2 separate regions of the Homo sapiens genome follow, and region 2 is linked to region 1. Evidence: fine-mapped expression QTL. A gene starts in region 1. The other region holds a variant in brackets. All regions are shown on one strand. Distances are from middle to middle.

Region 1 (15,725 bases):
ACACCTTCTGAAAATACTCCTGAGATAAATGTACCAAGATCATGTTTGGAAAGGGAAATGAAGTGATCAAAACAAACAAAAATATACAACAACTAAACAGACAAACACATACACATATATATGAACATGCATATATATATCACACACATATACACATGTGTTGTCTGTTTGTAATTATATATAAAATAAATATAGACAATTATGTATATTTAAGTATGTCTATGTGTAAATACATATGTAAAGATAAGTAAAGATATATAAAGATATGTGTAAATAGATATGTAAAAATAGAGATATAGGTTTAGGTATACAGAATATAGATAAATATAGACATATGATTTCAAAAAGCTACCTTAACACATACATAATCCATTTGAAGAAAGGATTCTATAGTTAAAAACATTTTAAAACCTGTATTGTAGCCCATATCCTCTTTTGATAGGTGATGGTAAGAGGCCCAGAAATTGGCAATCGAATCCCAGATCAGATCTCTTCCAGCTGAGAGGCAAATGCTCACAGTTGCAAGAGGTCTTAAAAGATCTTATGTGCATGCTCATGATAACCTCCCAGTTGCCCTAAGATGTTTTCCAGCCACTGTTGCAACAACTCCCTGGAGAGAAAGTACACGGGCTCACCAGAACAGCCATTCCCAAGAGAACTCTAATTGTGAGGGCACTTTGCTTCGCTGAGTTGAAATTGCCAACTTAGAAGAAGCTTCCCCACTTCTAAGACTGATAGAGAGGAAAGTTTGCAGCTTTTCAGGCATGTAGTGTGTGTGTACACTTTTTGTAACCATGTGACCTGGGGCACATCACTTAATATCTCTGAGTCTTTCATTTTAAAATGTGATCAAGGTTAACTGCCATACAGCATGTACAGAATGCAATGAGATAACATATATAAACCCGCTTTTATACGCTTTGTAATACAGTAAGATAGGGATTCATATTAATGCCCTTTCTGTCCCTCTTCCTTGATTTCTCCTTCACCAGAGTCATGCTCAAAACAACTAATTCTGCTACCAAATGAGAACCTCAGATTATTAGAAGCTAGCTATGAGGTGCCTATGCCCCAGCTCACCTTTCCCCAACATGAGTCAGCTGGAAGTCCATTCCACAGTAAAGATGCTCTCCTCTGGGATACACAGTGGAGCACAGGGTAGACGCCATCTTTGGACAAGACTTTCTTCCCCTGTGAGGACTGAGCCAAAAGTGAAATTTCTGGAGAGAAAGAGGCTAAGCCAAAGGACACAAGCTAATCCCACAAGCTAATCCCACTAATTCCAGTCTCCCTTATTTCCTCAGGAGTTTTAGAGTACCACTTATGAACAGCGTGCAGGTACTTAAGATTCTCATAGCCTCACAGCCAGTCTTAGCATATGATGCCAAGAGGGGCTAGATATCAAACTCCTCAAAGCCTCATGGTTGGAGCTCAATGCCTTGGTTAATTAAGCATCGTTCAGCAACAGCCTCAATCTTTCAGGCTTAGAAATCTGAGACAAGATAACATTAAAAAAGTCTAGTTTTGCAATCATATATTGGAAGTTCTGGCAAATGATTCAGCATAGAGAATACAAAGAGAATACCACAATCAGTCACCCTGCCACAGTTCTGGTAAAATGCTCTGAGAGGCCCCGTAGGTTTCTACAATACTTGATTTCCCTTTGGCAGACTTTGAATTGCTGGCCGGAATGATCCAGATCTTCTGCTGTTTTCAGGTATGTTTCTCATATTGTTTTTGAGTTTCTAATCAGAAACAGAAAAACCAGAAAGCAGAGTGTGTCCACAAGTAGATGTCATACCACGTCTGGGGAACAGAGAGGGGATATAACATAAGAATGCTTAAGCATGAATTTGTTTCCAAACACAATAACTTATTATTATACTTGCCCTGAACTTTGAGATAGAGAGAAAAAGAGAAAGACCCACCAACTTTGCAATCATATGCTAAAGGTTCTAGCGAATGATTCTGCAGCATTCTTTTTATCTACACTAAACCAAACCCTTTGCCATATCCCATGCAGACATGGTAAAAAAAAAAAAAATGCACAGCATGAGACTGTAAACAAGATACTTAAGAGAGAGTCCATCACTCCAGAACATTAGTATGTGAACTTCAGACTCTGTGGAAACAAGATGCTTTGGGAAAGGGCAGTGGCCTTGGTGGGCAAAGATCCTGGGAATGTAAAAACCCCCAGGTTATGGGGATGTGGGGTGGATCTTGAGAATGACCCAAGGTCACATTGAAGGTGACATCACAGCCCAGAACATTGATGCCTTTCAACTTGCTCCAACCCGGAAGTGCAGTCCATGCCAATTTACTTTTCTGAGTCTGTATTGTCACACTTGCTCCCGGTTTGGTGGAGGTGGGCGCACTGTTCTCACTCAAACCTACTTCTACTCCCCCTTCTTCTGTAGGCCTCTTTTCATCCACACCAGACATTTACCCACTCCAGAGTCTTACTGGATTGTCCCCAACCCAACATCCAGACTTGTTCTTCTCCATCCTTTTTTCATTTGTGATGGTGGCTGGGCAATGATAAGAATAGGCAATAAGGGAAAATTAAAGGTTGTTCTAGTAGATACTCAAACTCCAGAAAAATAATAGATGTATGTCTGTCCTAGAAACACTTTTCTCTTCCCATCTCTGCCCTCTTCCCAATCCTTACTACCACAGAAGCAAAATGGAAGTACCACATTCTCCACTCTAATATGTTACCTAAGTTCTTCTTTGCTGACAGATTTTTTATCTCAAATTATTTTTGATTTTATGTACATATCCCAGGAATTCTGACTAGCATCCTATCCTAATAGGAATACAGAGATAACTTTTAACTGAGACAAGAATTTCTTCTCTACAGGTCAAGTGTGGTGGCTCATACCTGTAATCCCAGTACTTTAAGAGGCCAAAGTGTGTAGATCACTTGAGGCCAGGAGTTCAAGACCAGTCTGGGCAACATGGTGAAATCCTGCCTCCACTAAAAGTACAAAAATTCGTTGGGCATGGTGGTACACACCTGTAATCCCAGCTACTCCGGAGGCTGAGGCACGAGAATCACTTGAGCCCAGGGAGCGGAGGTTGCAGTGAGCCAAGATCGGACCAATGCACTCCAGCCTGGGTGACAGAGCAAGATGCCGTCTCAAAAAACAAAACAAAACAAAAAAACAGATTTTCTTCTCTACAACATAGCTGAGTCTCATGGTCAAATGAAATCTAGGGCCAACTTCTGGCTCCTTATGCCTGTAAGTTCTGACTTTGCCATGACTTAAGAGAATGATCAAGCTCAGGGAAATCAGGTCACAACATCAGAATCAAATGTCATGTATGAGTGTGGGAATGTCATGTCATTGTGCTGTTCTCATTTACCTGTAAGGATTGGCCTTGGCCACTTCGAAAAGGGACTAGCTGTGGTTCAGTGAAAGGCTAATACCCAAGAGTATTTCCCTTCATGGGCAAGGCATGACATTCTTCTACAGATTAAGAACAGCAGGGAAATAAGGAATAAAAGGGAAGAGCGTGTGTAATATGAATAAACTTTTCCATCACCATATGGTAGCCACTGAGGTACCTCTCTCTTCTAACAGAATCAGAATCTAACATCAGAGATATAGACAAAAGACTTTTATTCTTCAGCACCTCCTTAATTTTTCTCCCCAAGTCCCTGAAAAATATAGGAGATGGTGAAGTTTGTAGAAGACTTATATTACTAAAATTAGAAATAAAAGTGGAGACATTACTACCAACCTTAGAGAAATTAAAAGGACTATAAAAAGAATACTATCTACATTTGTACACCAACAAATTAGGTAGTCTAGATGAAATGGACAAATTACTAGAAACACAGAAACTACCAAAACAGACTCAAGAAGAAATAGAAAATCCAACCAGATGCTCACTTCATCACTGCTATTCAATATTGCACTGGAATTCCTAAACAGAGCAATTAGGTAAGAAAATGAAAGAAAAGGTATCCAATTATGAAGGAAGAAGTAAAACTATTTCTATTTGCAGATGACATGACTGTATACAAAGAAAATCCCAAATAATCCACACAAAAACTAGTAGAGTTAATAAGCAAATTCAACAAATTTCAGGGTACAAAATCAGTTGTGTTTCTATACACAAACCCACAATGAACAATAAAAAAAGGAAACTAAGAAAACAATTTCCTTTATAATAACATCCCAAAGAATAAAATACATGGGACTAAATTTAACCAAGGAAGTGAAAGAATTGTACACTAAAAACCACAAATAATTGCTGATTAAATGGAAAGATGTCCCATGTTCACGGATAGGGATACTTAATATTGTTAAATGGCAATACTTCCCAAAGCAATCTATAGATTCAATGCAATCTCTGTCAAAATTTCAAATGGTCTTCTTTGCTGAAATGGAAAAGCCAATCCTAAAATTCATATGTAATTCCATAGGATCCAAAAAAGCAAAACCAATATTGAAATAGAAAAACAAAGTTGGAGTACTTACACTTCTCAATTTCAAAACTTACAAGCTACAGTAATTAAAACAGCATGGCAAAGGCATAAGGATAGACATATGGATCAATGGAATAGATTCAGAGTCCAGAAATAAACACAACATTTATGGCCATTTGATTTTTGATAAGGATTGTCAAGGGGGTCTTGAACATTCAGTGGGGAAAGAATAATATCTTCAACAAGTGGTGCTGGAACAATTGGATAGCCATGTGCAAAATACTCTAGTAGACTCCTACCTTATGTCACATACAATAATTAATTTAAAATAAATCAATCCTAAATATAAGGGCCAAAACCATAAAACTCTTAGAAGAAAACAGGCGTAATCTTCATGGTTTCTGATTTGTCAATGGATTCTTAAATTTGACACCAAAAGCACAAGCAACAAAAGATAAAATTGATACATTTGAATGCATAAAATTTTTTTAATTTGCACATGGAATGACAATATCAAGAAAATGAAAAGACAATCTGCAGAATGGGAGAAAATATTTACAAGCCACATATCTGATAAGGGCTGAGTATCCAGAATATATAACAAACTCTTCCAACTCAACAATGAAAACAAAAACAACGCAATTTTAAGAATGGGCAAAGGACTTGAATCAACATTTCTCCAAAGAAGATATGCGAATAACCAGCAAACACATGAAGTGATGCTCAACATCATTACTCATAAAGGAAATGTGAATCAAAACCATATGACATACTACTTTACACCCATTAGGATGAAGATAATAATTTTAAAATAACAAGTGTCAGCAAGGATGCAGAGAAATAGGAACTTTCCTATGTTGCTGATAAGCAATGCAAAAGGGTACAACCACTGTGGAAAACAGTTTGGTGGTTCCTTAAAAAATTAAAAATAGGATTATTGTATAACTCAGAAATTCCAAAAGTATATATATTTGGTATATATCCAAAAGAACTGAAAACATATTGTTCATGCAGAAATTTGTACACAAATGCTTATTATTGCTGCATTAGCTACAATAGCCAAAAGATGAAAACAACCCAAATGTCCATTGACAGATGAACAAATAACTTGTGGTATAAACATACAATGGGAATATTATTTTTCCATTAAAAAGAACGAATACTGGCATGTGCTACAGCTTGTATGAATCTCAGAAACATTATTACAAGTGAATGTAGCCAGCCACAACAGGTCATGTATTGTGTGATTCCGTTTATATGAAATATCCAGAGGTGGTGGTTGCAGATTTTGAATGTGCTAAATGTCACTGAATTGAATACTTTAAAATGGTTAATTGTATGTTATGTGAATTTTACCTCAATTTTTTAAATGGGTCATAAACTTATGTTTAGCATAATCCCCTTTTAATTTTAAAAAATGCAGATATTACATGAGAAAAAATGTGCTAGAGCATATTTCAAGACATTAAAGATGGTTATCAGTGAATGATGAGAAATTAGGTAATGTTTATTATTTTCGCTTTGCTAAAATTATTTAAAAATTACTTGCATATTAAATTTTTTAATGCCTAGGAAAGAAAGACTATAGTTGTATTGACTAAGATTTCTACGAGCATGGGGAAAATGCTTAATTTGTAGGGTTAATCAAGGATAAAATAAATTGCATTGTATGTACAATGTGATCCCAAGTATTTAAAACACACTGCTTATGGTAACAGTCAGTCTGTGGGAGACAGGTTAAAAAGTGATATTTTCCCTTCCTACTTTCCAAATTTTCTTAACAAACATATATTATGACTATAATCAGAAAAAATTATTTTTAAAACGTCTACTATGGGGCAAGCTAGGTTCAAAAAATAGAAGTTTGATAAATGTAGTTGGCTTGCTATTGACAAGGAAGACGTTTACACTGGAATTCTATATTTTGAGATATACCATTCCTCATAGAAAAATTTCCTCACAGAAAATATAAAGGTGGAAACAAATCACAAGAATCGAACCATGTAGAGAGACTTAGTTGTCTTTTAACAGAATTGGGCACGGGCTGTTCAGAAACAACAATCTTTCACATCCATTATAATGATAGCATTAGTGTAGTTTGTTTAGCAAATGTTTACTGTGAGCCTGTTATGTGCTGAGCCTGCTATGTAAGAAGTGTGGCTCTCTGGACAGGAGACAGAATACTAAACAACACAACTACTGATCTTTGGCTGCCTGGCATGCTTCCTCACTTCATATGGTATCAGCAATTTAGCACCACAAACGTCCTTTAGAGAACCAGCCCTTTCTCATTCTTGGTTCTAGTGGCTTGAGTAGACTGACCCCAGCCTACCCAAAGTGGATTTGACTCCTAGCAATTCATTAATCTAGCCCAATAAAATGTCAAGTACAGGACTTTTATTGAAAGCATTCAGAAAAGAGGTGGACTCTCACACTAAACATTTGTAACTAAATAAGGGATGTTAGAAATTCTCTAGAAAGGAAGCTATGATAATAAATGGGTTGCTAGATGGGTCTAGTAGATGGTGGCCATGCTTTGTTACTGCCTTGTGTATTGTGCTACCATAGCCCTCCCCAAACTGTACTCTGGCTCCTGGCATTTCCGTCTCTTCAACCAGATGGTCAGCTCTCTAAGTGAAGGAGACACATCTCCAACATGCTTGGTTCTAGCACAACAGAAGGGCTCAAACACATACCTGCTAAAGAAACTATCCTGATGGATTTAGCAGCATGGCCATGAGGCATTGGCGGTTCTATCACTGGGAACTCAGGTTTCTGGTGCTCCAGTACCTCTACTGGCTGATACCACATCCTACAATTCACTTCATAGGCTTGGGTTCCTGCTCTGGGCTGAATAGGTGGTCCACTCTGAGTCATCAGCTGTGGGTGATGATGTGGTCACTGCATGATTCTCACACAAGCACCCAGAGGACGTCATCAGGCAGAGGCAGTGGGGGTGGGCAGCATTTACAGAAAATCTGTGATGAGACACCACAAAACCAGAGGGGAACATGAAGTCACTGAGCCTGCTCCACCTCTTTCCTCTCCCAAGAGCTAAAAGAGAGCAAGGAGGAAACAACAGCAGCTCCAACCAGGGCAGCCTTCCTGAGAAGATGCAACCAATCCTGCTTCTGCTGGCCTTCCTCCTGCTGCCCAGGGCAGATGCAGGTGAGTGACCGTCTCCACCCTCGGGGGCCCAACCCCATCCCACAGGTCTCCTGCCCTTTCTCCACATTCCTGATCCATCTATCTACCAGGAATGTTCTGAACTCCAGCTCCCATTCTACCAAGACCCCCCAAGTGTGATGCTGGATAAGCTATCAGCAGGAATGGCAGAGCAGCAGGCCATTCTCAAGAAGAGCCAGTGGGTACTATCCCTTCCCCAGAGCCCACCTTTGTCACCTGGAGAGTAGGACTTTCCTAGAAGTAAATGGCAGAGGATGGGAAACTAGAAAAGAGAAATATTAAATTATTCTAGAGTAGGCCTGGCTTCTGTTTCTGGGATAAGACAGGTGCTTCTCTCACTGTCTACTTAGGAGAGAAACCCAGAGCTCAGCTGACAGCAGAATTGGTACAATCACTGTCCTCAGAACACTGTTAATGTGTTTGCTCAGTCCCATTCTCCAACTCTGCTTTTCTTCCCTGGCCTTTGGTGGCTCCCCTCTTTCCAAGGATGAGGCACTACGGCAGGCCCCAGCTTCCCTGCTTTCTAGAATTCCACCAGCACTGCTCTACCAGCCCTCATCCAGAGGCTAACTGGAGCCAGTCCATCATGCAGCCATGAACATTTACTGGGCACCCACTACATGTCAGGCTCTAGGAAACAGGATATGACAGTATCTAGATCCCTCCACTTACACCCTGGCCATTAGAAAGCAGCACTATCCTAGACACCACAGGACTCATAAGGGTCTTGGAAACTCACCTGAAACAAAGCAAAGTCAGGAGAGGAATGATCAGGAGCCTCTGGGATTTCACTGTCCCTAAGACAGGTATGCTCGCCTTCAACTACATATGGAAGAAAGATTTACAGACCAAAGTCTGCTGTTCTTCCCTTTTTCAGAGCAGGAAATTGAAGCCCCTTCCTCCAGGCCACTCCCAACTCCAGGCTATCCCAGGCTCCCAAATGCCCAGGAGTTCTGGAGCCACTAAGCAGGTGCCCACCCAGCAGATTCCATGGGTGCCCACAAGCAGACAGACTTTTCCTTCAGGGGAGATCATCGGGGGACATGAGGCCAAGCCCCACTCCCGCCCCTACATGGCTTATCTTATGATCTGGGATCAGAAGTCTCTGAAGAGGTGCGGTGGCTTCCTGATACGAGACGACTTCGTGCTGACAGCTGCTCACTGTTGGGGAAGGTGAGGAGCAGAAAACAGCCCACACCCTCCTGGAAACACTCCACAGAGACCCCTGCCTTCTTCCCAAGGAGCTCCCTGGGCTCCTGTGAACACACATGCCAGGAGGTCTCCTTAGAGGGTGAGAAAAGGGCAGTTAAGTTTGTGGAGAGAGGGGAAGGTTGGTTCCAGAGGTGCTGCTGAAGTAAGAAACAGCAGAGTGACCAAGCCTGCCATATTTAGAACTGGGGGCATACTTTGGCATAGAATACAAACTGAAGCAATTCCACCTGTGTTTCTAGGGGGAACCGAACCCTGAGAAACCTGGTGCAATTACCAGAATTCCAATTCCTGGGGACCGACTGTCCCCTTAATTTCCCCTCAGCTGCAGCCCTGCCCCAGCTGTCACCTGCTCTTCACTGTCTCTGGGCTGTATACCCTGTGACTCCACCCCCATCCTCACTCTGCTCTCTGTGCAGCTCCATAAATGTCACCTTGGGGGCCCACAATATCAAAGAACAGGAGCCGACCCAGCAGTTTATCCCTGTGAAAAGACCCATCCCCCATCCAGCCTATAATCCTAAGAACTTCTCCAACGACATCATGCTACTGCAGGTGAGGCACACTCCTGCCACTCTTGCTCTTCTTGGTCCAGTTGGTTCCACTCCCCCTGGAATGCCGGCCCTTCCCTCCTTTCCATCCTGGCCTCTTGGTTAGTTCCTATGCCTCAGAGGAGAGGGAAGATTGTGCAGCCCCATCACTGTGTCGGGGCCCAGAAGTTCGTTGGCTGACCTGGACTTTCTTGCCTCTTCCCCACCAGCTGGAGAGAAAGGCCAAGCGGACCAGAGCTGTGCAGCCCCTCAGGCTACCTAGCAACAAGGCCCAGGTGAAGCCAGGGCAGACATGCAGTGTGGCCGGCTGGGGGCAGACGGCCCCCCTGGGAAAACACTCACACACACTACAAGAGGTGAAGATGACAGTGCAGGAAGATCGAAAGTGCGAATCTGACTTACGCCATTATTACGACAGTACCATTGAGTTGTGCGTGGGGGACCCAGAGATTAAAAAGACTTCCTTTAAGGTAAGACTATGCACCTGCCTGGATTGGCTCTTGGGAGAAAGATGTTTGGGGAATATCTGAGACCTGGAGACTCAAGTAGTGGGGGACTCCTTCACCCACTAGACTGTGATATTTCTCTCTGGAAAGAGAAGAGGGGACTAGACTGAGCTGGGGAGAAATTAGGGCCTCTGCAAACTTACCAGGAGGCTTATGGTGGATGGTGCTTCTTTGGAAGGATGAATTTGCAACACTCCACCCACTCCAGGTCACAGATATTAGGAAACTGTGCCCACTGGGGGTGCAGTAATTATAACCAGGTGTGTCTTCAGAGGCTGGTACCCAACGTGGTTAATGGGCTGGTCCTCCATGGTGGACATCAGCCCTCCTTGCCCACTTCTGGGTCCTTAAACAGCCAACGGTCCCACATACCTCCGATCTCAGGATCTGGGGGACATGACGGAGGCTGGCCCCTGGGATGAGGTGAAGCAGTAACAATGTCCAGGGCCAGAGCTTGGCAGCTGGGGGCCACCAGCGGCCTGCCCTGCCCTCTGGTCTCCCACATGTAGGCTGTGCAAGTTGGCCTTTTCTAAAAGGGGGCTTGAGATGGAAGAGAGGGCAGGACCCGGAGGAGCATCAGCTCAGTCCTTCCACTCTCTATTCACAGGGGGACTCTGGAGGCCCTCTTGTGTGTAACAAGGTGGCCCAGGGCATTGTCTCCTATGGACGAAACAATGGCATGCCTCCACGAGCCTGCACCAAAGTCTCAAGCTTTGTACACTGGATAAAGAAAACCATGAAACGCTACTAACTACAGGAAGCAAACTAAGCCCCCGCTGTAATGAAACACCTTCTCTGGAGCCAAGTCCAGATTTACACTGGGAGAGGTGCCAGCAACTGAATAAATACCTCTTAGCTGAGTGGAAAAGCTGGTTTCTTGTTTATTCATTGACCCTCATTCTCAGGCACCACATCTGCGCTATGCAGGCCAATGACACAATTTTGCTGTTTTCTGCTTTCTCCTCTCCCCTCACCCCTTGCCACCTCCCCAAACCCCCACATGAAGCTGATACTCAGCTCCTTCCTATCCACACCAGTTTCTCCAGGGCCTGCCCTTCTGCCAAGGCTGAAGCTGAGCACCATCAGGAGACAACATGGACCACTTTGGTCCTGGGGCTTTGGGTAAACTTCTTACCTCCTTCTCCAGTGTTACATGACAGAGAAAAAAGGGATAATACCATGGGACCTAACTCCTCATCCCCCACTGGGGCTCCTCATTCTCCCCTGGGCTTAGTTTCTCTACCCTCCTCTGAGCTCAAGGCTCAGCTCGTCCTCCAGCCTCTTGGCTGCCCCTTCTCTTCATCCCTGCTGAGTGTTCTCAGAATCCACCAACTCTTGTCCTCTCCAGACCACACTGATCTGATCTGGCCCCTCCCTCATATCTACCCACCTAAGATACCCAGAGACCCATGTGGTTCCATAAGGGCCTTGCCACTGAGACGCCAGCCCATCTCATGCCCTGGCAGAGAGGGGCCTCAGAAAAACCAGGCCTGTGTGGCAACCAGGTAAGACCCATGGAGGACAAGGCTGGCACGGTCTCTCTCCAACCCTTGGCTCCATCTCTCCCCTAGGTAGGGCCAGCTCAACCCCTCCCATCCAGCCCAGTGTCCTCCCATACACTCAAGGTTCACTGCCCACCTGGGCAGTCAGCAGGCTGAGCCCCTTTAAACCTGTTCCTCTTGGTCACTGCTGGCCTCTAGGCTAAGATTCCCTGCTAGCCACCTGGGCTACATCAGCCCTTTGAGTTCAAAAGGACTCCTTTCTGCAGAAGGACTAGAAAGCACAATCTTTTCTATCAATCAACAAACAAATACTCATTGAGCACTTACTATGTACCAGGCATAGAGGATAGTAAGAGAACACAATAACAGACTCTATCATCTGAACCCAAGTGAAACTGACAATGTTGAGAATTTTCATCCAAATTGTTTCACTCACTTTCTGTCCTTCAGATTAGTTCACAAGAGCGAGATGTATATGGAAATCCATGGGATTAAAGTATTTGTATCTTATTTTTATTTCTGGTTTTTCTGAGGCCCCTCCCTGCCAGGGCATGAGGTGGGCTGGCATCTCAGTGGCAAGGCCCTTATGGAACCACGTGGGTCTCTGGGTATCGTAGGTTGGAAGATATGAGAAAGAGGCCAGATATTCACACAGTTTGTATAAGTATTGTCACGTGCGACCCCAGAACAGCAATGTATGGGATTTGAAAACAACTTTAATCATTTACTTTCTAGACATGAAGTTGTCAAACTGTTCAATGGAGCGTCATCTTCACCTAGGGGGAAGAGTAGCAGGGCAGGAAGAAGACAACTAGGGCAGGCTTATTTTCATTTGTTTAAAAAGTAGCAAGGATGAATGTCATTATAAAGATTCAAATTGTAGGAAAAACACCCATTTGATTGGACCACTCAGAAGCATAATCCCTGTCATTATACAGGCTCCTGCCTGTACAGAATGAAACTAGAATCAGGAAGGCTCACGCAGGCTGGAAAAATGGAACAATGCCTCGAATGTTTAGGCCACTGATTACTGCTACATTCATAGTTTCCAGAACTACCTGGACTTGTGAATGTTAGGAAGTTCTTGGCTTGGAGGCCACCGATAGAGTATATGACATATTGTTGAATAAGGGTTGCCCAGTGTTAAGCTCACCCTGCCAAACACTCCCAGCAACCACCTCTCCAAGGTCTTGCCACTAATATGGAGTACTGCCTGGGAGTTGAACATAAGTACTAGCTCTAGATTAATGCTTCCCTGTCTCAAATATACACAGCTACACTCTTGTGGCATGGAGTAAAATCTCCCTCTAGGATCATGTAACTGTCAAAGTTGCGCCCTTTCTCATCTCAGTGTGCACAAAGCATGCTGCAACACAATCCTTTTTTTTTTTTTTTTTTTTTGAGACAGAGTTTCACTCTTATCGGCCAGGCTGGGGTGCAATGGTGCAATCTCAGCTCACTGCAACCTCTGCCCCCTGGGTTCAAGCGATTCTCCTGCCTCAGCCTCCTGAGTAGCTGGGATTACAGGTGTGCGCCATCACACCCGACTAATTTTTGTATTTTTAGTAGAGACAGGGTTTTAACATGTTGGCCAGGCTGTTCTTGAACTTCTGACCTCAAGTGATCCACCTCGACCTCCCAAAGTGCTGAGATTACAGGTGTGAGCCACCACACCCGGCCGCAACTCAATCTCTTAATAATCTTGGGCACTTTTATAAAATAAGTGGGTGTCACACAGCTTCTGATTTGGAGCTGGAAAAAAAATCCCTGCACCTAAGACATACTAATGACTTGGTTCCTTCATTGGAAAAGGAAAACACAGGCAGCAAAACAAAATAATAGTATTTTTTAAAGTTGCCTGGTCACATTCATAATCAGTTTAGGTATGATACTTACTTTGGGGAAATGGTTCTGTGGTTTAAAACAGGCTTGAAAATCATTGTTGTAGGACTTTATCCACTTCTGAGCAAGAAGAAAGAAACAAAGTTTCAGGAAAGGGTAGTGACTGACTGAAAATATCACAGAAGTTAGGACAGAGCCTGAACAGAGCCCATGCCCCCTGACAACCAGGCCAGAAAGTAGCTTTAAAAGTCTTCTAATGCTCACCCCAAGATGACTTTCTGGAATCTCCAGACAAGAATTAAGTTTATGCTCAGACGCCTCCCTGGAAAGAAAGACTTTGGGCTTCTCCAGCAGCTATTTAGTGAGAAGTATTCAAAGCACTTCCCTTTGGTAAGCTGAAATCTGTCCACAGGTGCATTTGGGTGGACTCAGAGGCAGGTAAGTACTTTAAACATGCTGACTGCTTCAAATCTCCTTGGTCTGTGGAAGTTTCCCCCCCAACCCCTACCATATGAAGAAATAATCCTTCCCTTGCTTAAAATCTCTCTAGTGTCCCTACTGACTCTAGGAAAGGAAATGCCTCAGCCCACTGAGATCTACTCCCACCATCCCTCTTTTCCTCCAGGGCCACAGGAAGAATCAGGTCCCAGCACAGTCAGGAAGAGAACTGCCAAGTGGGCTCATGGAGGAGATAGACCCCAAAGAAAGCAAAATCTTGCTAAGTTGTTTCTGGGAATATGTATTGGTGTGACTGCCTTCCCAGCCCACCACCATGCTTCTCCCAGTACCACTCTTTGTGAACTTACACAGCTTATAGGGTTTACTTCTTATCTTGGTAACCCACACAACATTGCTTTTGACCAACTAACATATGTCACCATGGCAGCAATGTGTTTATGGACCATAACACTTAGAAGTAGCTGACCTGAGAGAATTGCAGAATAGCGTACTGAAGACTGAAAATAATGACAGCTGAGAAACAGCTACCGGCAAGATTGGGATGCTGTGCTACAGGATGTAGCATATGCTTTTTTTTTTTTTTTTTTTTTTTTGAGATGGAGTCTCGCTCTGTCGCCCAGGCTGGAGTGCAGTGGCGCAATCTCGACTCACCGCAAGCTCCGCCTTCCGGGTTCACACCATTCTCCTGCCTTGGCGTCCTGAGTAGCTGGGACTATAGGCGCCCATCACCACACCTAGCTAATTTTTTTTTTTTTGTATTTTTAGTAGAAACGGGGTTTCACTGTGTTAACCAGGATGGTCTCAATCTCCTGACCTTGTAATCCACCCGCCTCGGCCTCCCAAGGTGCTGGGAGGATGTAGCATATGCTTTTAAGCAATAATAAATATACAATGTTGGTTCTTTCATAGCTAGAATACATTGTTTTGGAAACAGGGAATGTTTCCAAACATTCCTTGCCCCTCTGATTAGGAGTTACACCATAATCTTGAGCTTTACTGGTCTAGAGGTCTCAATTCCTGAGAAAGAAGTCAACAGTCAGATAAGTAGGTTACTTTAGTAGCTGGGTGATTAATCCTGATTGCCATGGGAAGATGGGATTCACTGAGATACCTCCTAATATTTCCATGACCATTAGTGAAGGTCATTGGAGGACTACTGTAGCCCAAAAGATAAGACTACTAAGACCCTTTAAAAGGAAATTTTGAGGCACTACAACAGATAAAGAATCATACCAGATAGGCTTCTTGAGATAAAGTCTTCTGCACAGCTTCTCAGAGATGGTATAACACCCACCCGCATAATGACTTCCCAGCCTCCTTGGCCAAGAGCCCTTCCAACCTCTACTCAGATACCTCCTTAGAGAGAGATCCTGAGGTCATCAGACTCACATGCCATGACAGCTGAGCTGAGATCTGCCTACCTGTGACCATCACTATTTACAAGACGAGACAGTGGAAAACTTGCATTTGGATACAAGTGTGTACTGAGGGATCCCATTCTCCTTGATGTACTAATTTTTCTTTAAAAGTGATAATAATAGCTCCCATTTAGAATTTTTAAATAACACAACAAATGTAAAGTAACTAATGTGTCCTCTGGATCATGGTAAGTAATGAATAAATTTAACTCCCTTTACCTTCTCCCTTTGCTATTTTTTCCATGCTAGGATTTATACATTTTTAAAAAACTAAATCTGCTATCAAATGACAGCTTTAAATTTACTTTTTAAAATTTGTTATTGTATATATTTATGGGGTATAAAGTGATGTTATGATATATATATACACAATGTACACTGATTAAATCAAGCCAATTAACATTTTATCATCTCAAATACTTAACATTTTTTGTAGTGAGAACATTTGAAATTTACTTTTAGCAATTTCAAAACATACATTATTATTATTAACTATAGTCACCATGATGTACCATAGATCTTTAAAAACTTATTCTTCCTGCCTAACTGAAACTTTGTACTCTTTGACTAACATCTTTTCATTCCCCCACTTCCCAGCCTCTGGTAATCACCATTAC
Region 2 (15,725 bases), 63 kb before region 1:
TCTAAGCCAAAGGAAGAGGCTGTATGAGCATTTGGGTTACAGTGTCAGGGCAAGCAAATGATGTATTCTGGCTGGGGGGAAGTATAAACTCATACAGCAATACCACATACTGCACCTGCAGCCAGGCACCTCAGCAAAGTCATGTTATGTGCAGATGTCCATAGAGGAAAAAACTTTTGAGAAATATTCTTTTCCTCTCCTCTCACCCTGAAGTGAGAAAAAATAAAGCTTATGTCTTCTGGATGTCAAACAGAGACCTGCTTCATTTGCTGTGCCTGCGTTGGCTCCAAGTACCTGTGACAGAGGGAACCGCAATGTACAAGCGAGCTGGAGGTTTTTCCATCAGAACCCCACTTCTATGCCTCCACTATCACCCTAATAATTTAAATAACAAATCAAGTCAGTGAGGGAAACGATGCCCATCTCCAGTCTATCTACCAGATTGACTTTGGCATCCTTAAAATTAATCTAAGAGAGAACACTTAGGCAGCCATTTGAGCTTGAGTTTTCTCCAATGTGAGTGACATGCAGTGGTACTATACAGATGTTACGACAAAGTCTGAGTGGGTCATCAGGCCTAACTCGATGCTAGCACTTAGCAAATGCTCAGTGAAGGTTCTGCAACTGTGTGTTGGAGTTCAGACACTTTCTCAGGAAGTTTTGTGAAGACTGAGCTTCAGTTGGATATAAGTGGGATGAGAGAAAACCAAACTTAAGCCAAGGCAAAAGGGTCAAGCTATTACGGAGAAGAAACTAGTGTCACTGTCCAGAATTCGGTCCAACTGGAGAAAAGCCCATCTCTTCAGTTGTCTCTGACCACCCCAGTTCCTAGCCATCAGCACGCATGGCAGGCTTATGCTGCGCTGGGGCATGACTGGGCAACAATGGATATCTGCAAGTTCTAAGACAAGGAAGTTTGGCAAGAGAGATCTTGGTTCTCCCACCAAGACCTAGTCACATAGGAGGTGATGAGATGTCACAGAAGGGACACAGAATTCACATTCATTGAATTCCACATGTTGAACCATTCTTGCATCCTAGGGATAAATCCCACTAGGTCACGGTGTATGATGCACATTGTATACCTGTTAGGGTGGCTGTTATCAAAAAGTCAAAAGATAAATTGCTGAATATACGGAGAAATTTAAACCCTTGTACACTGTTAGTGGGAATGTAAAATGGTGCAGCCGCAATGAAAGACAGTATGGAGGTTCCCCAAAAAATTAAAAATAGAACTGCCATATAACCCATCAACCCCACTTCAGGTTATAGATCCAAAAAATTTAAATCAGAATCTCAAAGAGATATCTGCACTCCATGTTCATTGCAGCATTATCACAATATTCTAGATATGGAAACAATCTAAATTGTATTGATGGATGAATGGATTGAAGAAAATGCAGTATATACATTCAATGGAATATTATTCAGCATTGGAAAAAGGGAAATCCTCCCATATGTGACAACATAGATGAATCTGGAGGACTGTATGTGAAGGGCAATACTGCCTGATTTCACTCATGTGAGGTATCTAAAATAGTCAAACTCACAGAGGCAGAGAATGGTGATTGGGGGAAGGTCTCGGGCAGGGATAGATAGGAAGTTGTTGTTGTGTAGGTATAAACTTTCAGTTATTCAAGATGAATAACTTCCTGAGATCTGCTGTGCAATATAGTTTCTATAGTTAATGATACTGTATTGTATTGTGCATTTGAGAGGGTCTATCTCATGTTGTGTTCTTACCTGCACAAAGAAGGAGCGGGCAACAGGAAATCTTTGGGGGTGATAGATATATTTACCACCTTGATTATTGTGATGGTTTCACAGGTGTATGCTTATGGCCTAACATTAAATTGTATACATTAAATATGGGAAAGTTTTTTTCATATAACAATTATACCTCAATAAAGCAGTTAAAAAACTTAAAAACTTAGGCCACTAGAAGACTCTTAAAGAAACTTCACCAGAAATGTCTTTCTTACGGTGAATTTTTCTTACCGATATTTTTCCAAAGCAAGCACAGATATTTCAGGCCAATGTTCTGGTCTTTCTGCTATTTCAGCTTAAAACCTTCCTTTTGAAAATCACCTTGGTATTGCTAGCTGAGCTGTGGCCCTTCCTCCCACAACCTGCAACTAATGATGTGACTTGACTTGCTCAAGCCCATAAGCTCAAAGATACAAATCTTTGTAAAGCAAGATTTTGCTATCAAAATCTATATGAATAGCCTATTTTGTTGTTGTTGTTGTTCTATTTTAGTAATTTCAGGGATTATTTATCTGTAAAAGAATAAAGAACTTGAAATAATATTTAAAGCATACTTTAAAGACAGCATTTTACTATCTCCATGTTTACAAGTCATATGTGCTTTTGTGGAAGATTTAGAAAATATAATAAAGTACATGGGAAAAATTACTTGACTATTTATAACCCCACTGCCATGAGAAACATCACTGTAGACACTGTAATTGTTTTTTTCTTCAATGAAGTCAATCTATACTTTTTTGAAACATGCTCCTGTTTTTCACTCAGCAGCATGTAGTGAAGGGCATTTTCAGGCAACAACTAAACATATACCCTGTTTTCAGTCCTAAGTCAGAATGTTGCCTTTTGGGATATTATAAAAAAAAAAAACTATTTGGTTAACTGCATAATCAAAAGTAAACTCAACCCAATAACATAATTTTTGGGATGATGTTAAAAATGGCTTGTATGTTTTATTAATATGATTGAGTGTTATTAAACTTGGTCTTTGAATTATTTCAATATGGACATTTTTGTTATCTTCATTTTCTTTGCATTTGAATAGTTCTAGTCAACCAGTTTGCATAATTAGGCATTAGGATAATTAGCACTAGTTTCCATAATAATTTCCAAATTATTATTCTAATATTATTATAGTATCTCCAATCAGAGACTTAACAGAGTAAAACATTCTTTCTTGCTCATGCAATATTTTATAAACTGTGGGTAACTGCACTCCTTGGCTCTGCTACCAGCAATAACTAAGGGATATGTGCTCATTCCATGTGGTAGTTACTCCATCTGGAACATGTGACCATGGAAAAGAGAAGAAAGAGTGGCAAGAGTAGAGAATCATCAAGTGGGTTTACATTCAACATGGAAGTGGTGCACATGAATTCTTCTCACATCTTATTGGTTATAATGCAGTCAAATGGCCTGAACCTGACTGTGAGGCAGCCTGGGAAATGTAGTCTTCCTTTGTGCCTGTAAAAAAGAAGCCGATTGATAAACTTCTAACAATTCACAGGACCACTTACAAATGAGCTGTTCCTTAGGATTCCACCTTAACATCATTTGTTGTTTCCAGCCATTATATGGCTATTCCTTGTACAACCAATTGGATTCCATAATTCAAATCTCTCCTTGATGGCTAAAACAGCCAGAAAATGGTATATGGAAACATATACACACACACAGCACCCCCACACACACTCTCTCATTGCTAATAGCATAGTTTATTTGAGTATATTAATAATAGATCTTTGCAATAAGCATTGTTCTATGTCAGAAATTGCTGGATGTTTTACTTCCATGCATTATCTCAATTGATCTTCACAGAATTAGTGAGGCAGGCATTAATTATATCCTCATTTTACAGATGAGGAAATGAAACTTGAGTAAAATAATGTGCTCAAAGTCACACAATGACATACTAGCAGGGCTGGGACCTATCCAGGTCCATCTGGCTCTAGAACCTGTGCTATTAGCTCCTGTACTATATGGGCCTCCTGTTTAGGAGACACTGCCAGAATGAGATGGAAGAAAGTCCCGTGGGGCAAGAGCTTCAGGCTTTCCTGATCTTCTTGTCAGAGTGGTTCTAAGCTGGGTTATCTGCATCCTGGAGTCCCTCTGGCTGATGCACTCGACAGTTTTGCCACATGTAACCCAGACTAAAGCGGCAGATGGCCCAGATTATGTTATACCACAGAATGATGGTTCTCTCTGCTCTGCTCTGCCTCAAAACTTGCTTTGTTTTCCAACCTGAACTACGGACTGGTCCTAATATGCAGCATGGCTATAAAATGCAGCCTGTTGCATTGAGTACGGGCTACATCTGATTATACTTGATATCTTGCTGTGTGCTATCTTTAAACGTTTACATGTGCCACTTTTACCTCCCCAACTAGAGGGTAAATTTGGGACAAAACCCCATGTATTTCCTAAAAGCAGAAGCACATGGGAAACTTGTATTGATCTAGGGTGGGCAGCCTAACAATACAGGTAACCCTGTGGTCGGCTCTGTGCCTCAGTTTACTTTTCTGTAAATCAGGGGCTTTGGCTGGAAGAGATCTAAGGGCCTGTCCAGCTTTGTGATTCTCCATATTATTGGGCAGTGCTCTTCAAGGGTGTACTATCAAAAAGCTTAGTAAATTTTTCCTTCAAAGCCAAAGTCATTGAATTGTCACAGGGTGAGTATGGTCACATTCTCCCTAGCTAACAGCACCAAACACATGTGACTATAACTGGGTTTTCACAAAGAAAGTTGAATTTTCAAGTGACAAAAACTCATTATTATAAAATGACTAATAATACAGCCAAGAGCCGTAAAGTGAATCTTGCCCAAGTCATTCATCAATTGATACACTTTAAAGAGAAGCTTCCTTATCTATATTGTTAGTCATTATTCAAATAAAGTAAATATTGCCTGCATGGCCCACTGAGAAATTACAGGAAGATTTATTAAGAAATTGAGCAAATTAAATGTCTTGGAGAAATTTCAAAATTAAGGATTCTTTCAACAAAGGAATTTCAAGAAGTCAGGTAGGCTGCACAGTTTTATCATCTTTGGGTCTCACTCAGGTTCTATCTAATGGCACAATGCAGTGAGGCTTGAGGCAAACTGCACTTGTCTCAGAAGTCAGTTGCTTTCCAGGCCTGGGACAATGCCATTCAAGAAGCAATAGCTTTGTGACAAAGACCCTGAAACCCCCTGGTCTTTTCTCTTAAGTCAAATGGCTTGTCTTCCTTTTTGGTTCATCAAATAGGTAGTTACTTTGCAGGCTCAAAAGCCTCAAACAAGTGAGTTTCATTTGAATGTGATTGCATTTCATAGATGAATGTGCTATTTAGCTTTATTCTATACTGTTATTGCTACCACATGAAGAAGATAGAAAGAGGAAGCAGAGTTCTGGGAACTGCAACTAATGATTTACCATATAGAAGGAAGTGCTCAAAACAACCTGAGACATGAGTCTACTGAAAAATTAGAAACAATGACCCACTTTACCATTAGCCAGGATATAATAACAGCTGGATGTCAGAGCAATCTATGGGTGCCAAGTTAGGATGAAATTTAGACCAGGTTACATTTACTCAATGGCAAAATATCTAGTAAATCCAGGTAACGTTTTTGCAGACACACCCTTTAAGTCCAAGTAAACAGTTGACTTTTTCCTTTCATATGGAGTGTTGCAACATTCTAGAAACACTACCTTGAACTTCTTCAGGAATTTTGTGATCTCAATTTACACACTGGCTCCAAACGATACACACACACACACACACACAATTAGAAAGCTTTTTTTTTTTTTTTGCTGTGTCCTCCAGACATCTACAGGGTCCCTAGGACCCTCAGAAGCAGGACCTCTACAAATATGGGAGAATATGCCTTCTTCCTTTTGAAGAATGATGGTACCAGAAGGGAAGATTTATGTGGGCAGTAAGATTTCTTAGTTCACCTTTCATTCTTGTTATAATTTAATATCATTCTAATATAAAAAATGAATGACTCTTGGATGGGAATAATTGGCAAAGGAGTGCCTCGTATGAATGTAGCATTACAATCTGTCCTCCTGACACTCATCAAGATGCCTCCATTGTGCATCACGATGAAATGTCCATCAGGACTCCTAGGGTTTGTGGCTGAGCACACAAAAATGCTGCCTACTTCTCACTTTGATTTGCACGTGACCCCAAAGGTGGAAGAGGGCTTTGTCAAAGCCACAGGCCATGGACAAACCAGTGCTCAGTCTTAGATTTCCTAAAATACCCTCCTCTTCATGCGGCTTTTTCCTAAGTGCCACAAAACGAGATGCTACACATTAATTAAATGCACGCACATAACCTCAGCATAGTCTTCACTTCGCTTATCTAAAACAACAGATTTTCTTATGGACCAAAAGGCCTGAAACGGAAATATAGACATGAATTCTACATTATTATAGGGAGCCAAAACCATCAGTTATGTATAAGACAGACAGGTCCAACCAGAAGAAAAATTGTAAAATTTGACCCAGAATAGGGCCGGGTGCGGTGGTTCACTCCTGTAATCCCAACACTTTGCGAGGCCGACACGGGCGGATCACGAGGTCAGGAGATCCAGACCATCCTGGCTAACACAGTGAAAGCCCGTCTCTACTAAAAATACAAAAAATTAGCCGGGCGTGGTGGCGGGCGCCTGTAGTCCCAGCTACTTGGGAGGCTGAGGCAGGAGAATGAAGTGAACCTGGGAGGAGGGGCTTGCAGTGAGCTGAGATCGCGCCACTGCACTCCAGCCTGGGTGACAGAGCCAGACGCCATCAAAAAAAAAAAAAAAAAAAAAAAAAAAAAAAAAAATCTGACCCAGAGTATTACTCATTCAGCAGTCATTAGGAAAACTTTTAAAAATTAACACAGGATAGGAGTCAACAGGAGCAAGTTTTGTTACCGAAGAATCAGTCCGTACTGGTGGCTGAAAAACCACTACTCTCCACCGGGCACACCTGTGCGCCTGCCTGAAACCGTGGCTTACCATGCAGCCTACAGGGACACTACATCTTTCTCAGCATGGAGATCC[C/A]GCACAACACAGCGAAATACTATGAGTTCTTGTCAGCAATCTTTGTCTCCACACACTTCTTCCACTCACTAACCTTCCACTTACTCCTCCACTCGCTCATTCACCTTCCACTCACTCACTCCTCCACTCACTCATCTTCCACTCACTCATCTTCCACTCACTCACTCCTCCACTCACTCACTCCTCCAGTTACTCATTCCTCCACTCACTCACCTTCCACTCACTCACCTTCCACTCACTCACTCCCCCACTCACTCACCTTCCATCACTCACTCCTCCACTCACTCATCTTCCACTCACTCACTCCTCCACTCACTCATCTTCCACTCACTCATTTTCCACTCACTCACTCCTCCACTCACTCACCTTCCACTCACTCATCTTCCACTCACTCACGTTCCACTCACTCACCTTCCACTCACTTATCTTCCACTCACTTACGTTCCACTCACTCATCTTCCACTCACTCACCTTCCACTCACTCACTCCCCCACTAACTCACCTTTCATCACTCACTTCTCCACTCACTCATGTTCCAATCACTCACTCCTTCACTCACTAATCTTTCACTCACTCATTTTCCACTCACTCACTCCTCCACTCACTCACCTTCCACTCACTCACCTTCCACTCACTCATCTTCAATTCACTCACTCCTCCGCTCACTCACTCCTCCAGTTACTCACTCCTCCACTCACTCACCTTCCACTCACTCACCTTCCACTCACTCACTCCCCTACTGACTCACCTTCCACTCACTCACTCCTCCACTCACTCACTTTCCACTCACTCACCTTCCAGTCACTCACTCCTCCACTCACTCACTCCTGCACTTACTCATTCCTCCACTCACTCACCTTCCACTCACTCACTCACTCACCTTCCACTCACTCACCTTCCACTCACTCACCTTCCATTCACTCACCTTCCACTCACTCCTCCACTCACTCACTCCTCCACTCACTCACCTTCCACTCACTCACTCCCCCACTCATTCACCTTCCACTCACTCACCTTCCACTCACTCACCTTCCACTCACTCACCTTCCACTCACTCCTCCACTCACTCACGTTCCACTCACTCCTCCACTCACTCACCTTCCACTCACTCACTCCTCTGCTCACTCACTCCCCCACTCACTTCTCCACTCACTCACTCCTCCACTCACTCTTCCACTCACTCACTCCTCCACTCACTCACTCCCCCACTCACTCACTCCCCCACTCACTCACTTCTCCACTCACTCCTCCACTCACTCTTCCACTCACTCACTCCTCCACTCACTCACTCCCCCACTCACTCACTCCCCCACTCACTCACTTCTCCACTCACTCCTCCACTCACTCTTCCACTCACTCACTCCTCCACTCACTCACTCCCCCACTCACTCACTCCCCCACTCACTCACTTCTCCACTCACTCCTCCACTCACTCTTCCACTCACTCACTCCTCCACTCACTCACTCTTCCATGCACTTTCTTTTCGCTCACTCATTGTCCACTCATTCTGCCACTCACTGACCCTATACTCCCTCACTCCTCCACTCACTGTAACATAATGTCTCTACCCACCACAGCACTGAAATGGCCCCTGCTAAGACCACTCATGCCCTTGAGAACCTAAATCACTTTTCAACCCTCATTTTACCTGATGTCTTCACATTAGTTACATAGTCCCTCTTTTTTTCCACCCCTTTCGTTAACTCCATAGTTCTGTTTTTTTCTTTTTTCCTCCTTGTTCTTTTGTGGGTCTCCCTTCTTTACAGGACCTTGAAATATGGTAGTGTGCTGGGTTATAATCTAGGCCTCAACTTTACTCTTCCCTGGGGCTCGTCTCAGTGACTCATGGATGTGTATATTTAGCACAGAACTCCCTTGTGAGCTCCAGATTCATGTGCTTCTCTGCATATTTCCCTGACATCTGAAATTCAACTTGTTCAAAATTTCACTTGTGTTCTATTTATTCACCACATCACCAACCTGGCTTTTCTCTGGTGTTTGCTCTGAGGAAATGGCATCACTGTCAACTGAGGGGTTTGCCACGCATCTGGATGTTGTCTGCTTTTCCTTCCTCCCAGCTCACAGCAGTCACCAGGTCATGTCAACTTTACGTTACCTCCTCAACATCAGCCGACTTGTTCCTTTCTCTGCGTCCACTTCCTGTCATGGTCTCCTGGCCACTCTCTCCACTTCTGCTTTTGCCTCCTTTAATCCTCTCGCCTCACAGCAGCCACATGCATCTCCATGGGCTGAAATCTTCCCTCCAGTGGATTACCAGTGCTTTGAGTCAATTCCTAATATGAACCATCAAGCCTTACCTTGCCTATTTCTTTAACCTCATCTCCCTCTGTCCCCCATGATCTCTAGAGAGCAAACAGACAAGCTTCTTTCAAGTCCTTCACAGTGTGGTCTCCTTCCATCACTCAGACTTTGCCTGTGCTGTTCTCTTTCTCTAGCACACTCTTCCCACACTCACCCCACTCCCCTGTCTTGTTCCTACCCCTTCTTCAGGCCTCAGTTTAATTGTTATTTTCTTAAAGAAGCCTCTCCTCAATCTCTAGATTGTTAGGACACTTGTTCTATTTTCTTGTGGCACATTGCACTTTTCCCTCGCAGCATTTATCCACTCGACCTGAGTCATTATTTCTTCATGTGGTTAACAGACTGCTTGTGGGTACCGCAGAACAGTCCAGAGCACTGGTTCTGGAGTCAGACAGCACAAACTCAGATCCTAACTCTGCCATCCCATATCACTCCTCTGTGGTTTCATTTTCTCACCTGCCAAATGGGGTTAACAATAGCAACTATTTCACAGGGTCACTCTGGGCTTTAGATTAGATAGCAAGTAACTTATGCCTGGCACTCAATAAATATTAGGAAGGAAACTTTAGTAGATACTAAGTACTTGCTTGCTAAAAGAATGAATGTTTTTCATATAAAATGGAGATAACAGCATTTGCCCTGTAAACCCTTCAAGATGTATGTAAGATGAAATCAGTTTCTGAGTATGAAAGGCATTGTAACTTGTGTTAGGCTCTACAAACATGGGGTCCTCGTGTTGCTGTTTGTACTTCCCAGCCTTGACTTGTATTTTTCTTGACCAAAATGTCTTAGTGCCTCCATTTTGTTTTTAATAAGAGTGAAATGAAAACAGAATTGTAAACCCCATTGTCTTATATGTAAAAATGTTGTATCCAGACAGCAAAAGCTGCACTGCCCCCATTCCCAATAAGGAAAGACAGTGTAGCAAACACAAGACTCCCTCCCCAGGAGCATGCACAGAAAGCAGGGAAAAGAAACCTTCCCTAGGCTCTCCTTGAACTGTGTAAGCATAGCCTCCCTGACCCTAGGGCTGACAGTCTAGCATTTGATCCCCTGGGAAAATTTGTAGGCTTTAGTAAATGAATGGACCTTGAAGTTTTCCTTTGGGGGAGAGGTGCTATTTAAAACTCGGCAACAGCTGAATGCTAATGTACAGCAACAGCAGGAGCAGTGAAAGTTTGCTGCCATGCCTGAGCTAGGCCCCTAATTAATCAAACTCCCTTCCCTGTCCGCAGTCAATGCATTTTCTCTAATTTAGTTCAGTGCCACAGAGAAGAGTATATTCCTGCTATGAATAGAGTTCTAAAAGTTTACAGATTCTGAGGGTGGGAAGGTATCTTAGGTCCGCTGAATTCAAAAGCCTATTCCATGACATCAGTAATTCACTCCTTGATGCGTGGCCAAGCTGCAGGTGCCAACCTTCCTGCGTGGGGTCCCTTAACACAAGGGTGGGAAGGCCCCAAGCTATGTCCAATGTGTAGACAGCTCCTGGTTGATCCACCCAGTGGGACTCTGGGTCAAAAGAGGGGAGCCAGAGGCAGCAGGGATAACACAGCCAAGGTTTGTGGCTGGAACTGAGAGAGGATGCTGGGAGACAAAGGATAAGTGAGTGAAGATTTTAATGAGGAGGAAATGGTAAATGCAGGCATCAGAGATAAGGTGAGATGGCATAGAATGAAGTCCTCCCACCACGTTGAGCAAAACATCCCTCTTAGATGCCCACAGGTCCCACAGGTCCCAGGGGATTTGCAAGCCAGGGTGAAGTTTTCAGGGGTCCAAACTATCGCTAACAATGAAGGAGAACTTAAGGGGAAAATAAAATACCATTGAAAAATACTGAGAGAAGCATTGGGTTGGGCGTCAGGAGGTCTGTTTTCCAGTTCTGACCCCACCACTTGAGCCATTTGGGTAAGGGACTTAATCAAAATAGAGTGGTTTCATAGCTGTCAAAGCACTCAAAGCTATAGTCACTCAGCAGATTCAGTGCCAAATGACTTTCTGTTAAAGTCGTTCTACTTAGAACCCCCCACTTTGATCAAAAAGTTAACACATAGCTGACCACAAACCCCAAGCACTTTGGAAGGTGAGACATTGTCAGATTGCTGTGATAAGTAAATAGAGTACAGTGTGAAATTTCTAGAGGGCTGTCAGAAGAGAAGGCCTCTAACAGGAAATGCCGAAAGATCCTCCCAGTAGAATTTTTTTTTTCCCGGAAACTTCCTAAGAATCGCTCTAAATGTCACTATGCACAAACCCACTTGATCATCTCAATGGAACTGCGCCTTTCAGAAGTTCGACTGCGGCCCCAGCTATTGCTCTGAAACCCATCGCTGTGTTTGTGCTGAGACCTTGCCTCCCCAGGGCTGCTTCCAGCTCAAAACTGAGCATGACCGAGACTGAGACAGGCCCATTCCTCGGAAATGAGGGCCTCCTCTGATGCCCAGCTTTGACTAGGAGCCAGAACTATGTCTCAAACTGATGACTCTTTTGGCCCCTTTGACTTCCTGCCCACCTCAGACATTTCCCAAAGAGATCTCTTGCACATCTTATCCCATCTTTTTTTTTATTTTCTTTTTCTTTCTTTTTCTACTAAATAGATAAATATAAATATATATTTCTATTAAATATATAAATATAAATAAATATATAGTTCTATTAAATGTATAAATATAAATATATATTTAATTATATGTTATAATTAAATATATAGGAATTAAATTATAATTAAATTGTTTTAAAATTATAATTAAATTATAAATATATAATAACTTCTATATGTTTAATTATATATTATAATGTATTTCTGGAGAGAGAGAGAGAGAGACAGGGTCTTGCTCTGTTGCCCAGGCTAGAGCGCAGTGTGTGATCATGGCTCACTGCAACCTCAACTTCCTGGGCTCAAGCCATCCTCCCACTTCAGCCTCCCAAGTAGCTGGGACCACAGGTGTGCACCATAGTGCCTGGCTAATTTTTCTTTTTTTTTTTCTACTTTTTATAGAGGCAGAGTCTGCCTATGCTGGCCAGGCTGATCTCAAACTCCTGGGTTCAAATAATCCTCCTGCCTCAGCCTCCCAAAGTGCTGGGATTACAGGCACAAGCCACCATGTCCAGCCTTCATCCCATCTCGGTGCCTGCTTCCTGAAGGGCCTGGACTCACATGGCTTATTAACCAGTTCATAACTCATCGAATGAATGACTTTTTTTTTCGTTAAATTGTTTAGCCTTTTCAGGCAGAGCCACCAGCTCAGTCTCTACATAAATACAGTATTAAAAGTTTCACCCAGCTAAGCCAAAGTAGACATTTGGGTCTGGAACTAGCAGTGGGTCCCCTTTCTTATATCTGCGTTTTTTTGACTAATTTGCATTAAGGCTTAAAAAGTTTCGGGGACTAGAACTCAACCTGTATTAATAACTGGGGGCCAGGCATGAACAAATATGACTAGCAGACAACTGAAGGAGCAAAGAGAAACCAGGTTAGAATGAGGCACTAGGTACCTCTGAACATCCACCTGTGAACTGAAACTGTCCTTTCCAAGCAGCCCTGTCAGTGTTTACCTGCCTTGGGGGAAAACGTGGTATTTGTGTAAAAGTAAAAGCGTTGACCTTCACGCATTGCTGGTGGGAATGTACCTTGGTGCAGCTGCTGTGGAAAACAGTTTGGCAATTCTCAAAAAGTTAAACATAGAATTGCCATATGATCCAACAATTGTATCAAATAGATGCTTATAAGCCAATTTTCATAGCAGCATTATTCACAATAGCCAATAGATGGAAACCTCCTAAATGTCCATCAAAAGATGAACAGGTAAAAACAAAATGTGGTATAGCCATACGAGATATTATTCAGCCATTAAGTCATGAAGTTCTGATGCATGCTACAACATGAATGAATTGGAAGACGTTATGCTAAATGAAAGACACCAAAATAAAAAGATAAGTATTGTATGATTCTGCATATATGAGGTACTTAGAATGTGGCAAATGCATAGGTAAAAATTAGATTAGAGGTTGCCACGTGTTGGAGGAGAGAGAAATAAGGAGTTATTTTTTAATGGTTAAGACTTTCTGTTTGGGATGATGAAAAAGTTTTGGAAATAGTGATGTTTGCACAACATTGTGAATGTAATTAGTGCCGTTGAATTGTACACTTAAAAGTGGTTGAAACGGTAAATGTTCTGTTGTATACATTTTATAATTTTTAAAAATTAATAACACAATATACCAAAAAACACTGATTTGCACACTTTAAACGGGCAAGTTGTATAGTATGTGATTATCTGAATAAAGCTGTTTTCTAAAAAAAAGCCAAAGCACTGGAGCAGCTCTGGGCCATGAAACCTGGCTGTGGGATCCCGGTAAGAGGGTCAGACCCAATGAAGACGGTGGGTATTTCCCTCTCCATTGGCAAGTGGATGGCAGCAGCAAGGGCCCACACACAGGGCAGGTGGCATTTCCTGGCCAGGTGGGCAGCTCCAGTGGTGTCATGTTAACCTGGAGGAAGCGCCTGGAAAGAGGCTTGCAAGTGAACAACAGCAAAGCACAAGCCGCCAGAGGAGTGAGAAGGAGTTCAGAGGTATTCTAGAGTGAGCCTTAAGTGAAGAGTGACCCCTGGAGGGCTCCTTAAAATAACAGATGTCGGGGAGACATTGAGAAGGGACAAGGGGCCAGGTGCTTCACATTTCCCCTGGTGAGAACTGTTAAGTGAAACCTAAATACACATGCCAGTGTGACCACAATTACTCCCTACATCATTTGTACTCCCAGGCAGTCAGTCCAGGGGTGCATGGTATTTCAGTCAAGAATTGATACAATCATGTAGATAACTTAACAAATAAGAAAGACAAATGTTGCTTTATTAGCTGAGTTCCCTATTTTTTGTAGGCATGGTGTTTGGGCTCTGGATTACATGTTTCATTTTCTGAATTTTCCATTTCTAGCACAAGTGGGTATACTTAAGAAGTATGAGGAAATGTGGAAATAATGCTGGTTTTTATCAATATAGAAAGGTTAACTAGACCATCTAAAAGACACACTTCTTACAAATCTGGTGGCGACTTGTCCCTTTTGAAACCAGAGCTTCTGTCAGCATGAATGAATGAAATGTTCATTCATCCTAGGAGAAGGACACAAAATACTGAGGTACGTGTGATGATGTTAAAATAAGTCTCTATATTCTGCATGTTGGCCATGCTTCCTCACATTAAATTTCCATGTTAAAGCAATTACCAATGGTTAGACTGTCAACACAACGCTCAAACACCTACCTGGCTACTGCCAGAACACACTGAAATGACGTATTTGTATGTAGATAGTAATATAAGCTATATATATAGCACCACTAACAGGTAGTAGTAGTATGGAAAAATGATTATTTGGGATTATTGTTACTGACAATGCATTTTTTGTTTTTAATTATTGGAGAAGATAACATGTGCAATTAAAGATAGATAAATGGGTTTATAGGAGAAAGTTTCCCTCACAGTGCCCCTTCTTATAGAAGCAACCATTGTTCCTTATACAAGCAACCGTTGCTTCTGTAAGTAGCCATTGTTCCTCCTGGAGACTCAATACGACTTTCAATCATGCTAAAAGTTTATTTGCATTTGGAATAGATCAATAGAGTCATTCTTAGAGACAAACCTCTTTTAAATTAATGCTTTGTTCACAAACACAAATGTATGTATTTGCAAACACATACACACACACAGGTTAGTCAAAAGTCTCTAACAGACTGGAAAAATAACAAAACAATGGGTTTAATCACTGTCTATAAATAGAAAAAAAAATCTCAAAATGTATAGAATTTCTAACACCTAAAAATGTTTGAATATTGATGATTGACAAGATTTTTCTGGCAGTGTTTTGTTTTTAAAAAGTGAAGTTGCCCTGTGGAAATAAGTGCTTTTTTGTAGTGACTTGGACACCACATACTGTATATGGTATGTGTAGAAATGTCCACAAAAAATAGCTATAACTTTTAAACCATTTTTCTCCTGGCCCATTACTCTGCAGGGGTAATTTGAGTAGGCATTGATGATGATAAACACCACAGTTTAGAAGATGTTAAACCAACCTTATCAGAGCTCACATAGAGAAACAAATTAGGCAAACTGCAGTAATTTCAGCTAATGAAGTTTGATTCTAAACATCCAGATCAATTAAGCTTCAAGTACTTGCTTGGGTTCCTGCTCTGTAAGGCAGTGAGGATGTGCTAGTTGGAGGACGGGCTGGGAGGACTCATAGAAGTTTATAAATAAAGATGAAAGAAGTATTCAGTGCTTCCTGGAATATATTTCACAGGCTTTACTGAGTGAGGATCACATCATATGAAACTGAAGGAAAAGCACATGCTTCATGTGGAAGGTTCATCTATGTGAACCCTCCTTATTGAGGGCCTCCTGGGTTGCAGTGCTCTAAAGACCTGGTATTGTGAGAATGTGGCCAGCCTTCTGCATAAAACTACACTGTAAGAAAATGGGCATAAATGAGGTAAAATGGCTTCCGTGGAAGGGTGAGGATTGCAGAGGCTGGAAGTCAAGAGACTGAGAGAACTTAATCCTAGCTCTGCCAGGAACTACTGTATTTTCTTTCTCTGAGTCTTGG

What was found. PIP is the estimated chance that this variant, and not a neighbour inherited with it, causes the effect. A credible set is the group of variants that fine-mapping cannot tell apart.
Region 2: its variant is the best candidate, but not a certain one, in a credible set for the expression of GZMB in whole blood (INTERVAL, PIP 0.53).

The regions. Positions count from the first base shown.
Region 1 is chr14:24,625,984-24,641,708 of GRCh38, reverse strand. GZMB (granzyme B) reads left to right here and starts at 7,519. Exons shown (of 5, transcript NM_004131.6): 1 at 7,519-7,603; 2 at 8,647-8,794; 3 at 9,250-9,385; 4 at 9,591-9,851; 5 at 10,495-10,755. The coding sequence starts at 7,549. The coding sequence ends at 10,638. GZMH-AS1 (GZMH and GMZB antisense RNA 1) reads right to left here and starts at 8,607. Exons shown (of 3, transcript XR_007064087.1): 1 at 8,361-8,607; 2 at 1,081-7,413. RefSeq lists enhancers at 1,627-2,826, 6,941-8,140.
Region 2 is chr14:24,688,665-24,704,389 of GRCh38, reverse strand. No RefSeq gene overlaps it. Among named protein-coding and RNA genes, the nearest start is that of GZMB, 62 kb to the right of the region's middle. RefSeq lists an enhancer at 9,149-9,198. The variant C/A (reference allele first, on the strand shown) is at 6,800.